Linked DNA regions of Homo sapiens: region 2 is linked to region 1. Evidence: fine-mapped expression QTL. A gene starts in region 1. The other region holds a variant in brackets. All regions are shown on one strand. Distances are from middle to middle.

Region 1 (5,387 bases):
CAGGGGTTGAGGACCCCTGCTTTCTAGCAACACAAATGGACTAAGACAAACTTGAATTTTAAAAAGGCTATGGAGAGATGCTAACACAGAGATAAATCAGAGATTAGAATTATCTGACAAAGATGACGAAGACCTCAAAGGAAACATCATAAAAATACTTCAAACAACAACAGATTTTCTTGAAACAAATGGAAAATTAGAAAATCTCGCCAAAGACATAGAAGATATAAAGAAGAACCAAAGGGTGATATCAGTGACATGGTGGAGTATCTCCAAAAATCCTTTCCTCCACAAAAACGAGAATATTTGTAAAAAATTGTCAAATAAACTTTTTTAGAACTCTGAAAATTAAGCAAAAACTTGCAACAATGTGCACAGTATTTACCTAAGAAAAATGCCTGAATCTCAGGAAGAACAGCTTGGTGGCATTTTTAATTTGTCATATTCTCACCCCTCCACCCAAGCTCCGTAACAACCATGAAAACCAACAGCCTGCAAACATGATGTAAAGCCTGGCACCAAGTGAAGAGGGTAGAGAGGTTGGAGCTCTTTAAAACACCATTCTGTGAGAAATGTCATCATTTCACCAGTCTGGTACTTCCTGGAAGATGCTATTCACAAAGCTCTCTGTAGTTTACCTGACATGGAGCTCAACTAGTATGAACAGACTTCTCCTAGGAAGCGTTTGTCAAAAAAAAAAAAAAAAAAAAAAAAAAAAAAAAATTCAGAGGTAATTGTTTAACATTATGACTGTCTGATGTGGTAGATAATAGGAATAAGGTGTCCTTAGAGGACTCTGAAAAGCTCAAATATATTCCTGAGAATTTAGAAAGTCATGCAAATAACTAGAACTGTGTACATGCCCAGAGCAATGTATATGCCCAAGAAAGACCTGAGAAGGCCCTAAATTCTCAACTTATGACTAATTTGAAGCTCTGAGCAAGTAAGAAGTGAAGGCTATACATGGAGCTGTAAATTGCATGGCTGAATGTTGAAAGCATGCCCAAAAAAGCATGCAGAGCCTCTCGACAAAGACTGGCAGATTTGTTGGTTTTGGGTTTTAAAGAAACCTCTGTCCAATAAAAGGAAACATAGTCCAATTAAAAAATGGGCAAAGGATTTGAACAGACATTTCTCCAAAAAGATATTCAAATGACCAATAAACATTTGAAAAGATGCTCAACATAATAAGTCGTTAGGGAAATGAAAATCAAAACCACAATGAGGTATCACTTCACACCTACTAGAAAGGGTAATAATTCAAAAGATGGACAATAACAAGTGTTGGCAAGGATGTGGAGAAATTGAAAATCATATCTTGCTGGTGGGAATGTAAAATGATGCAGCCACTTTGGAAAACATCTGGCACATCCTAAAAAGTTGAAGAGTTACCATATGACCTAGCAATTCCACGTCTAGGTATATTCCCTACCTGAGAGAAATGAAAACATACTTCCACACAAAGCGTGTACATAAATGTTCATAGCAGCATTATTCATAATAGTCAAAAATTGAAACAACCCAAATGTTCATCAATTGATAAAATATATCCAAACAATGGAATTATATCCATCAAAAGGAATGAAGTATTGATATATGTTACAATGTGAATGAACCTTAAAAACATTCTAAGTGGAAGAATCCAGTCACAAAAAACCCACGTTGTATTAGTGTGTTAATATGAAATGTGCAGAATAAGCAAATTTACGGGTAGAAGTAGATTAGTGGTTTACCAGGCCAGCATTAAGAGGCAGGAAGAAATGGGAAGTGACTACTATTAGTTATGATGCTTTTTTGGGGGCAATGAAAATGTTCTAAAATTGTGGTGATGGCTCCATAACTAAGAATATACTAATATACGAATATATTAGTATACTAATATCGAATTTGCTAAAAACAACAATTTTTTTTTTTTTTTTTTTTTTTGGAGAGACAGAGGTCTTGCTGGTTTGGAACTCCTGACCTAAAGCGATCCTCCTGTCTTGGCTTCCCCTAACACTGGGATTACAGGTGTGAGCCATCGTGCTTGGCCCAGATACTTCAAATGGGTGAATCTTTTGGAGATTCCTAAAATCCACATTTGATGAATGTGGATTTTTCAAAACTGTGTAAAATATCCATTACCTTTCTAAGATCACTTCTTTCCTTTAGTCTGCTTAAATGGAAAAGCTGGTAATTTCATCTGCGCCAACATTCATACAAAATAAAAATATAGTCTGTATTTAAAAGCAGCTTTTGTTCATATGCTTTAATTATTTCATTTACTAACACATCAAGGCTTGCTGAAGCAAAATAACTGGCCCGTAATCAAAAAGCAAATAAGAGTCATCTGGATTTCAACTCTGGTTGTCTTAAGCCAGCCTCAGCCTGCATTTCATGACATCCTTAGGGAACTCAGTGTGGATATGGATGAAACCATATAAACACGGAAGCTGTTTTCAACGTGCTTTAGAAATTATAACACAGCAATCATTCTGGCTACAATGTGGCAGGCACCGTACTCAACACTTTATTCACAAGGTGTTATTAGTTCATCACAACTCTAAGTATTAAGCTAATTCACAAACTAGAAAGATGAAACAGAAAGATACCAGGAATTCGTGCAGTTAAATGGAATACATCTAGTCCCAATGATCCACAGTATCGTCAAAACATAGCTAAGTTGGGGGCGAGGAAGCAAGCTTAGTAATCATCCAAACTTGGCTTAAAGTGTGGTTCTGACTGAATTCTCTGAGCTTCAATTTACTTAACTGTGAATCAAGGGTAGTAACAATGACCGCGTTCGACGATGGGAAAGACGCCACGCTCACAAGCAGACAGATCCTAGTACACCTGAAATCCAACCGGGAGTGGGGGACAGCGGCGGGGAAGTGGGGGTGTGGAAAAGACTGGTGGAAGAGCTTTTAGGAAAGCTCTCACCCCGTCGCTAGCTCCTTCCTAGCCCGAGTGCCAGCCCTTAACTTCACATTTTACAGATTCCCTCCCAGGTCTTGATCCTGCCAAGGAGGAGGGTCCCACCCCTTGCGGAAGATCCTCCTCACTCCACTCACCAACATGGGGACTCCATAGCCGAGAGTCTTGTTCTTGCGAAAAGCACGCATCACCGCGGGTGCAAACATGAGTGAACTCTTCCATCGGCTCAGAACTCCAAGCGGGCCTAGCGCAGACTCCCAAATCTCAGCAGCTCACGCTCTCACCAAGACGAGTACGTCCTTAACTCACTTCCTTTTCCTTGGTTATTTGGTGCTCGGTCCTTAGTGAATGGTTTCCGCTAGGCAAAAGCAATCGAGCCATCGTAACATACTTGTGCGTCCGCCCAGAAATGTGGGCGTCAGCGTTTTTGGTTCCGTAACGTCGGCGTGCAATTGGGATTTAGAGATTTGAATCGGTTTACGATCACCACCAAATTGATCTGGAAACCAGTACTTCCCACGTTCTGGGTCCTAACTAACGTCTGCTTAGAACACTCCCTTAGGCACATAGCCACTCGATAAAATCAGCTAAGGAAAAAAGTATTTTGAGGCCGGGCGCGGTGGCCTGGGTGGGTGGCCTGTAATCCCAGCACTTTGGGAGGCCGAGGCCGGTAGATCACCTGAGGTCAGGAGTTCTAGATCAGCCTGGTCAACATGGTAAAACCCCGTCTCTATTAAAAAAAAAAAATACAAAAATTAGCCGGGCGTGGTGGCAGGCGCCTGTAATCCCAGCTACTGGGGGGCCGAGGCAGGAGAATCGCTTGAACCCGGGAGGCGGAGGTTGCAATGAGCAGAGATCGCGCCATCGCACTCCAGCCTGGGGAACAAGAGCGAGACTTCGTCTCAAAAAGAAAAAAGAAAAAAAAGTATTTTGAAGCTGGTACTCCAGTCTTTATGGCTATTTGTGGGATGAGGAATTTGCCAGTTTAATGGAGACTTTTAAAAATAAATCGCTTTTGAAAGATTAGGTTGAAATGTAATCAGTGTAGTGTCTCATCAGTCATTACTGAACTTTTAATGCTAATGATTTTACTGTGAGATAACCTGTAATCTTTAGTCATTTATGAATGTCTATTTACCAATGATTCAGCAACCATACAGGCCACCTTTCAGCGTGTCTTTGAAAGGGTTCTAGGAACACAGATAAAAATATATGATCCTTACCTTAAAGACACTGGCGATTTCATGGGCACAGAAACAAACATGTGTGAAGTACTGGGATAGCTTAGGAAGCCGATCCCCCACGTGTCCCATTTACCAGAGTGAATCAGAGTGCAGGTGATGCGGAATATTATCTTCCATGCTATTCCTGAAATATTTCCATCTGTCCCTGCCTCTCTGTTACCACTGAAATGTTCCTTTTTTTAATTCCTTATCATCTTTTCACCTATTAAAGTAGCCTCTTAAGTGGTCTCCAGAAGAGAAGCTCCAGATCTACTGCAGGCTACTCCAGTGAAACTTATCCTTTTGGCTAAGATCAAGTGTAGTATCTGTTCTTAACAGTTTAATATTTGACACATTCTCTATCCAAGGAAAATATGTTAAATGGGTTTTTGAAGCAAGGAGATGGAATAGGAGTTTGCTCCACCACTCTACACATCAACCTGTATTTCAATACCTCCAGAAACCCAGGAACGGTGCATCTCTCCCATCTTATTTACTTCCTTTTGATATTTCAAAATTCATGCAGACCAGGCATGGTGGCTCATGCCTGTAATACCTGCAGTTTGGGAGGCTGAGGCAGGAGGATCATTTGAGCCCAGGAGTTCGAGACCAGCCTGAGCAACAAAGCAAGACCCCATCTTTACAAATAATAATAATAATAATAAATTAGCCAGGCATGGTGGGGTCTCAGCTACTTGGGAAGCTGAGGTGGGAAGATCACTTGAGCCCAGGAGGTCCAGGCTACAGTGAGCCGTGATCATGCCACTGCACTGCAGCCTGGGTGACACAGCTAGACCCTGTTTCAAAAATAAATAAATAAATCTCACGTGGCATCCAGGTTAGTTAAGCGTATCACATCTCCTACTTTCCCTAAGATCCTAGAAGCCAAAGGCGCTGCTCTAAAACTCTAGCGTTTTCCTACATCTTCACTACATAAAACATCAGCCTACTGGATACTACTCCATCAAAACCCGGCACCTAAGTAGTAGCTAATAATGGGTTAAATCGTATACATATATTCAAAATAATGCTAGAGTCGATAATCTTACACTTTTCAGATAAGGCATCTATCCAATTTAAGGCACTCTATGTCTTTAGTATCTTGTTTGTTCAATCACTCAAATAAGCATTTATTGAGAACCTTGAAATGGCCCTGAAGGAGTAACTGTGAACAGTAGGAATTACAGGTATGCCGGCAGATTGTCAGGGGACAAAATCTGTGACACTGAGGAATGTAAGCACCTATCAAAT
Region 2 (5,387 bases), 37 kb after region 1:
CTTTTACACTGTTGGTGGGAGTGTAAATTAGTTCAACCATTATGGAAGACAGTGTGGAGATTCCTCAAGGATCTAGAAGCAGAAATACCATTTGACCCAGCAATCCCATTACTGGGTATATACCCAAAGGATTATAAATCATTCTACTATAAACACACAGGCACACATATGTTTACTGCAGCACTGTTTACAATAGCAAAGACTTGGAACCAACCCAAATGCCCATCAACAATAGACTGGATAAAGAAAATTGGCACATATATATCATGGAATACTATGCAGCCATAAAAAAGAATGAGTTCATGTCCTTTGCAGGGATATGGATGAAGCTGGAAACCATCATCCTCAGCAAACTAACACAGAAACAGAAAACCAAACACTGCATGTTCTCACTCACATAAGTGGGAGCCGAACAATGAGAACACATGGACACAGGGAGGGGAACATCATACACCAGGGCCTGTCAGGGGGTGGGGGGTAAGGGGAGGGAGAGCATTAGGACAAATACCTAATGCATGCGGAGCTTAAAACCTAGATAACGGGTTGATAGTGCAGGAAACCACCATGGCACATGTATACCTATGTAACAAACCTGCACGTTCAGCACATGTATCTCAGAACTTAAAATTAAAAAAAAAAAAAAAGATTTGAAACCAAAGGAAAAAAAAAAGATCCTTAATAATATATTCTTAGTTTTTCATTAACTCACAGGAAAAGTCTGACCACCCATGAGACAGAAACCTATTACAGCTATTTACAAGGTAACCAGGCTTGTAAAAATATAAAAATGTAAAAAAAAAGAAACATGGAGTTTTAAAATGTAATGTTCATATTCATAACACAACACCTCCCTATAAATAAAAACATACACACAAATATTAACTATTTACAAAAATGCATGCATATTTAAAGAAATATAAAGACACATTAGAGTGGGTACTTATGGGGAGAAAGATACAGGATAGAGTTTAGGTATGAAGGGTGAAAAAAGAACCTGAGAGGAACATACTGATGATAACAGTGTACTTTGGAGCTAAAGGGTATAATTAATTCAGCTCTTAGCATTTAAGGTCCAAAAGGAGTTGAGGGGAGAGGCAGGAAGAAAAAAGACTGGGATTCAACTTTTTTTTTTTTTTTTTTAGTGAATGAATGAAGAGCTTAGTGAGCTCTGGTTATAATGTGCCAACAAATTTTAAAATATGGCAAGATTAAAATGGGTTGCTGGGTGTCTATTTTGCAGTCTAAATGCAAAATAGTAAAGGTAGCATAAGAATGACACCACTATAGGATTAAGAGAGAAAGAAAGTGTGCCTAATAGAAGAACCTTGGAAAGTTAAACAAGAAATCCCTTCTTTTGAACTCCTGACTATAGGTCTGGACCCTAAGCCTGTTTAAAAGAGCAATGGCAGAAGCAACAGCTAATGTTTACCAAGACCTTATTATGTACCAAATAATATGCTATGTACTTTATATATATTATCTCATTTAATCTTCTTGACAAACACAAGTACTCATTTTTCAAAGAGTTTAAAAGGTGAGGCATGGACAGGTTAAGCAACTTTACAAAAATGTCACACAGCTCTTTGCAAAGCCAAGACTTAAGTCAGGCTGTGTGATTCCAAAGCATGAATTTTTAACCATTTTGCTACAATACATCTTTGCAGAAAATATAAACTGCTTTAAGAAAAAAAGTCTTCTAAGCATTGCTGGCTATCTTAGGAGCTAACTGGTCTCCAGGCTGGCTCTGAACAAGCAATGCTGGGATAATGGTTGTAGAACAATCTCCAAGGGTAATATATTCTAGAGGAAGAATTCACCACTATAGAGTTTTGTAACTGTTGTCAAGGTTCCTATTATTTACCTTCAGACCAGAAAAGGAAAAGCCCTTCATTTCATTCAGATTCTTATCTACAAAATCTAAAAGTTATAAAGTAAATGACCAGTGTTAACCTGTTATTCTAGAAATAACAATTCTGGACATAATTAAAATGAAACAAAATAGTTCATTAACACCAAGGATTATAGCCACTTGTTGAGTTATGAAGACTAGAGTAACAAACACCCTATTTTCCCTTTTCTTTCCCAAGATCAATCCGACTAATTTTCTCCCAGACATCAATCAAACTCCATTGGATACACAACCCCCCTGTCTGTCTTTTATGAAGACTAGAGTAACAAACACCCTATTTTCCCTTTTCTTTCCCAAGATCAATCCGACTAATTTTCTCCCAGACATCAATCAAACTCCATTGGATACACAACCCCCCTGTCTGTCTTTATCTATATCATGGTAAAATAAACTTAACATAAAATTTAACATTTTACCCATTTTTAAATGTATAATTCAGTGGCATTAAGTACCTTCACAATGTCGTATAATCATCACCACCACCTATATCTGGAACTTTTTATTCAAATAAAAACTCTATACCCACTAAAAAATAGCTCCTTATTCTCCCCTCCCCCAAACTCTGACACCATCTATTATACTTTCTGTCTATATTAATTTGTGTATTCTAGGTACCCCATATAAGTAGAATCACACAATATTTGTTATTCTGTGTCTTGTTTATATTGCTTAGCATAATGTCTTCAAGGTTCATTCACATTGCAGCACATTTCAGAATTTCATTCTTTTTTTTAAGGCTGAATTATAATCTTTTGTATGTACATACCACATTTTATTTACCTATTCATCTGGCAGAGGATATCTGTGTTGTTTCCACATTTGGCGGCTGTGAACACTGGTGTACAAATATCTGTTTTGAGTTCCTTCCTGCAATTCTTTTTTTTATTTTTTGAGATGGAGTCTTGCTCTGTCGCCCAGGCTGACCAGCAGTGGCGCGATCTCCGCTCACTGAAAGCTCCGCCTCCCAGGTTCACTCATTCTCCTGCCTCAGCCTCCTGAGTAACTGGGATTACAAGCGCCTGCCACCACGCCTGGCTAATTTTTGGTATTTTTAGTAGAGACAGGGTTTCACCATGTTAGCCAGGATGGTCTCCATCTCCTGACCTCATGATCTGCCCGCCTCAGCCTCCCAAAGTGCTGGGATTACAGGCATGACCCACCGCGCCCGGTCCCTTCTTGCAATTCTTTTGGGTATATACCTAGGAGTGGAATTGCAGAATCACATGGTAATTATATATTTAATAATTTGAGGAGGTGATAAACTTTTCCACAGTGGCTGCACCATTTTACATCCTCACAAACAATGCACAGCTACCCCAATGATATGTGTGTATGT[A/ATGTATGTATG]TGTATGTATGTGTGTATATGTATGTATATATATGTATATTTATATATATATGTATGTGTATATATATATGTATGTATGTAAAATAGTCATCCTAATGGGTGTGAAGTGGTAACAAATTGTGGTTTTGATTTGCATTTCCCTAACAGCTAGTGATGTTAAATATTTTTTTCATGTGCTTATTGGCCATTGGCCATTTGTATTACCTTCTTTGGAGAAATGTCTACTCAGGTCCTTTGCTCATTTTTGAATTGGGTTGTTTTCTGTCACTAAGCTGTAAAAGTTCTTTATATATGCTGGATATTAACTTCTTAGCAAATAAATAATTGGCAAATACTATCTCCCATTCTGTGGGCTATCTTTAACTCTCCTCATAGTGTCCTTTGAAACACAAAATTTTTTACTTTTAATGAAGCCCGGTTTATCTTTTGTTTTGTTGCCTGTGCTTTTGGTATCACATCCAAGAAATCATAGCCAAATCGAAGGTATTGAAGCTTTTTCCATTCTTCTAAGAGTTTTATGGTTTTAGCTCTTACATTTAGGTATTTAATAAATTTCTAGTTAATTTTTGTACATAATGTTAAGGCAAAAATCCAACTTTCACATACTTCTGCATGTGAATATACAGTTTTCCAAACACCGTATGTTAAAAATGTGTACTCTGCTGTTATTTGATGATGTGTTCTATATATATATATACGCCTGTTAGGTCTAATTTGTTTATAGTGTTGTTCAAATCCTCTCTTTCCTTATTGATTTTCTGTTGGTTGTCCTATCCATTACTGAAAATGAGGATACTGAGGTCTAACTATTATTATAAAATGGTCTACTTCTCCAGATCAATTTTTCAACATTTGCTTGATACATTTTGGCACTCTGTTGTTTTGTTATGGGAACTTTGGGGTGTCACTTTTCTGGCAGGAGACCTCTGTGTGGCTGCTGCAGCAGGGTGGGCAGCTCCAGGTGCTGGCTCTCTGCAAGGCTACAGCTGGACCAGGCGTAGCGCGAGCAGCTTCTACAGCTGGCACTGGGGAACACGATGGCATCTGGAAGCTTGGAGATGCCAGGAACCGTAGGGTCCCAAGGAGAAAGTCACAGCCCTGGCTCAGGGAGCTCCCAGGTCTCAGATACATGAAGGGTTGCAGCTCTTCTCTCTTTCTCTTCACCCACAATGTGGCAAGCAAGGGGCATGTCTCAGCCCTGACTGTGTTACAGCTCTCTTAGCCTCACCATTCGATGGATCCTGAGTTCTTGTCCAGCAACCAGGAAGAATGAGATACACAGACAAGTGGAGTGTCAGCAAGTCAAAGAGGAGCTTTACTGAGTGACAGAACAGCTCAGAGGGGACCTGCAGGGGGCAGCTCCTTTCAGCATCCAGGGTGTGCTGATGAGTGTTCGGCTCCTAGCAGAGACAGTAGCTCTTCTCTGCTAGGGAGGTCATCCCAATGAGTGTTCAACTCTCAGCAGAGAGGGTAGCTCCTCTCTGTAGGCAGGTCATCTCAACAAGTACTCAGTTCTCAGCAGAGAGGGTAGCTCCTCTCTGGAGCTGGTCATCCCATCTTCTCTGCTGTGGCTGAACCTGGGGCATTTATGGGCCTCAGAGCAGAAGTGTATGCCGACTGGTCCATGGGCAGCCACAGACAGCCCAGAAAAGGCACCACATGTACCCATTCCAGTCTGTGGGACTAGCAGCCCAGCCCTCAGCCTTCAGGCCCACCTTGGCCTGAAGGTGGGGCCTCACCAGGGACCAACCCCCTTCCACCCAGGAGACTGTCTGCCTCCTGCCACCATCCATGGCGACCAGCCTGTTTGTGCCAAGGGGCACCTGCAGGCCAGTGCTGAGCTGCCCTCAGCACCCCCAGGATTCCCCTCATGCTTGTTGGTGCCCAAAGTCCAGAGAGGGCTGAGGCAGCAAGGGGCTGGTGTGTCAGCACTGCCCTAAGTGTGTACACACTGGGCCGGGCTTTGACAGCACTCAGATTGGCCCAAACCCTGCACTGAGATCAGAGCAGGCACTGGGAGCAGGGAGAGGCCAGGCAGCAGGAAAAGACACCCCTGAGCCTGTGGGTGCAGGGGGAACCTTCCTGGGCCCCTGAGGGTGAAGAGTGCAGAAATGCCTAGGTCTTTGCACCTGGGAGGGCAGA

Which allele goes with the higher level. Positions count from the first base shown, and alleles are read on the strand shown. Sizes are in standard deviations (SD) of each study's normalised expression.
For the expression in iPS cells of the gene that starts at base 3,215 in region 1, allele ATGTATGTATG in region 2 goes with a higher level than allele A (moderate effect, 0.60 SD a copy in PhLiPS).

Evidence for each region. PIP is the estimated chance that this variant, and not a neighbour inherited with it, causes the effect. A credible set is the group of variants that fine-mapping cannot tell apart.
Region 2: its variant is the best candidate, but not a certain one, in a credible set for the expression of COX16 in iPS cells (PhLiPS, PIP 0.70).

The regions. Positions count from the first base shown.
Region 1 is chr14:70,356,469-70,361,855 of GRCh38, forward strand. COX16 (cytochrome c oxidase assembly factor COX16) reads right to left here and starts at 3,215. Exons shown (of 4, transcript NM_016468.7): 1 at 3,051-3,215. The coding sequence starts at 3,119. All of the region lies in intron 3 of SYNJ2BP-COX16 (SYNJ2BP-COX16 readthrough), which reads right to left. It also overlaps the pseudogene RNU2-51P. RefSeq lists enhancers at 2,935-3,244, 3,705-3,794.
Region 2 is chr14:70,393,337-70,398,723 of GRCh38, forward strand. All of the region lies in intron 1 of SYNJ2BP-COX16 (SYNJ2BP-COX16 readthrough), which reads right to left. All of the region lies in intron 1 of SYNJ2BP (synaptojanin 2 binding protein), which reads right to left. Among named protein-coding and RNA genes, the nearest start is that of SYNJ2BP, 21 kb to the right of the region's middle. The variant A/ATGTATGTATG (reference allele first, on the strand shown) is at 3,246.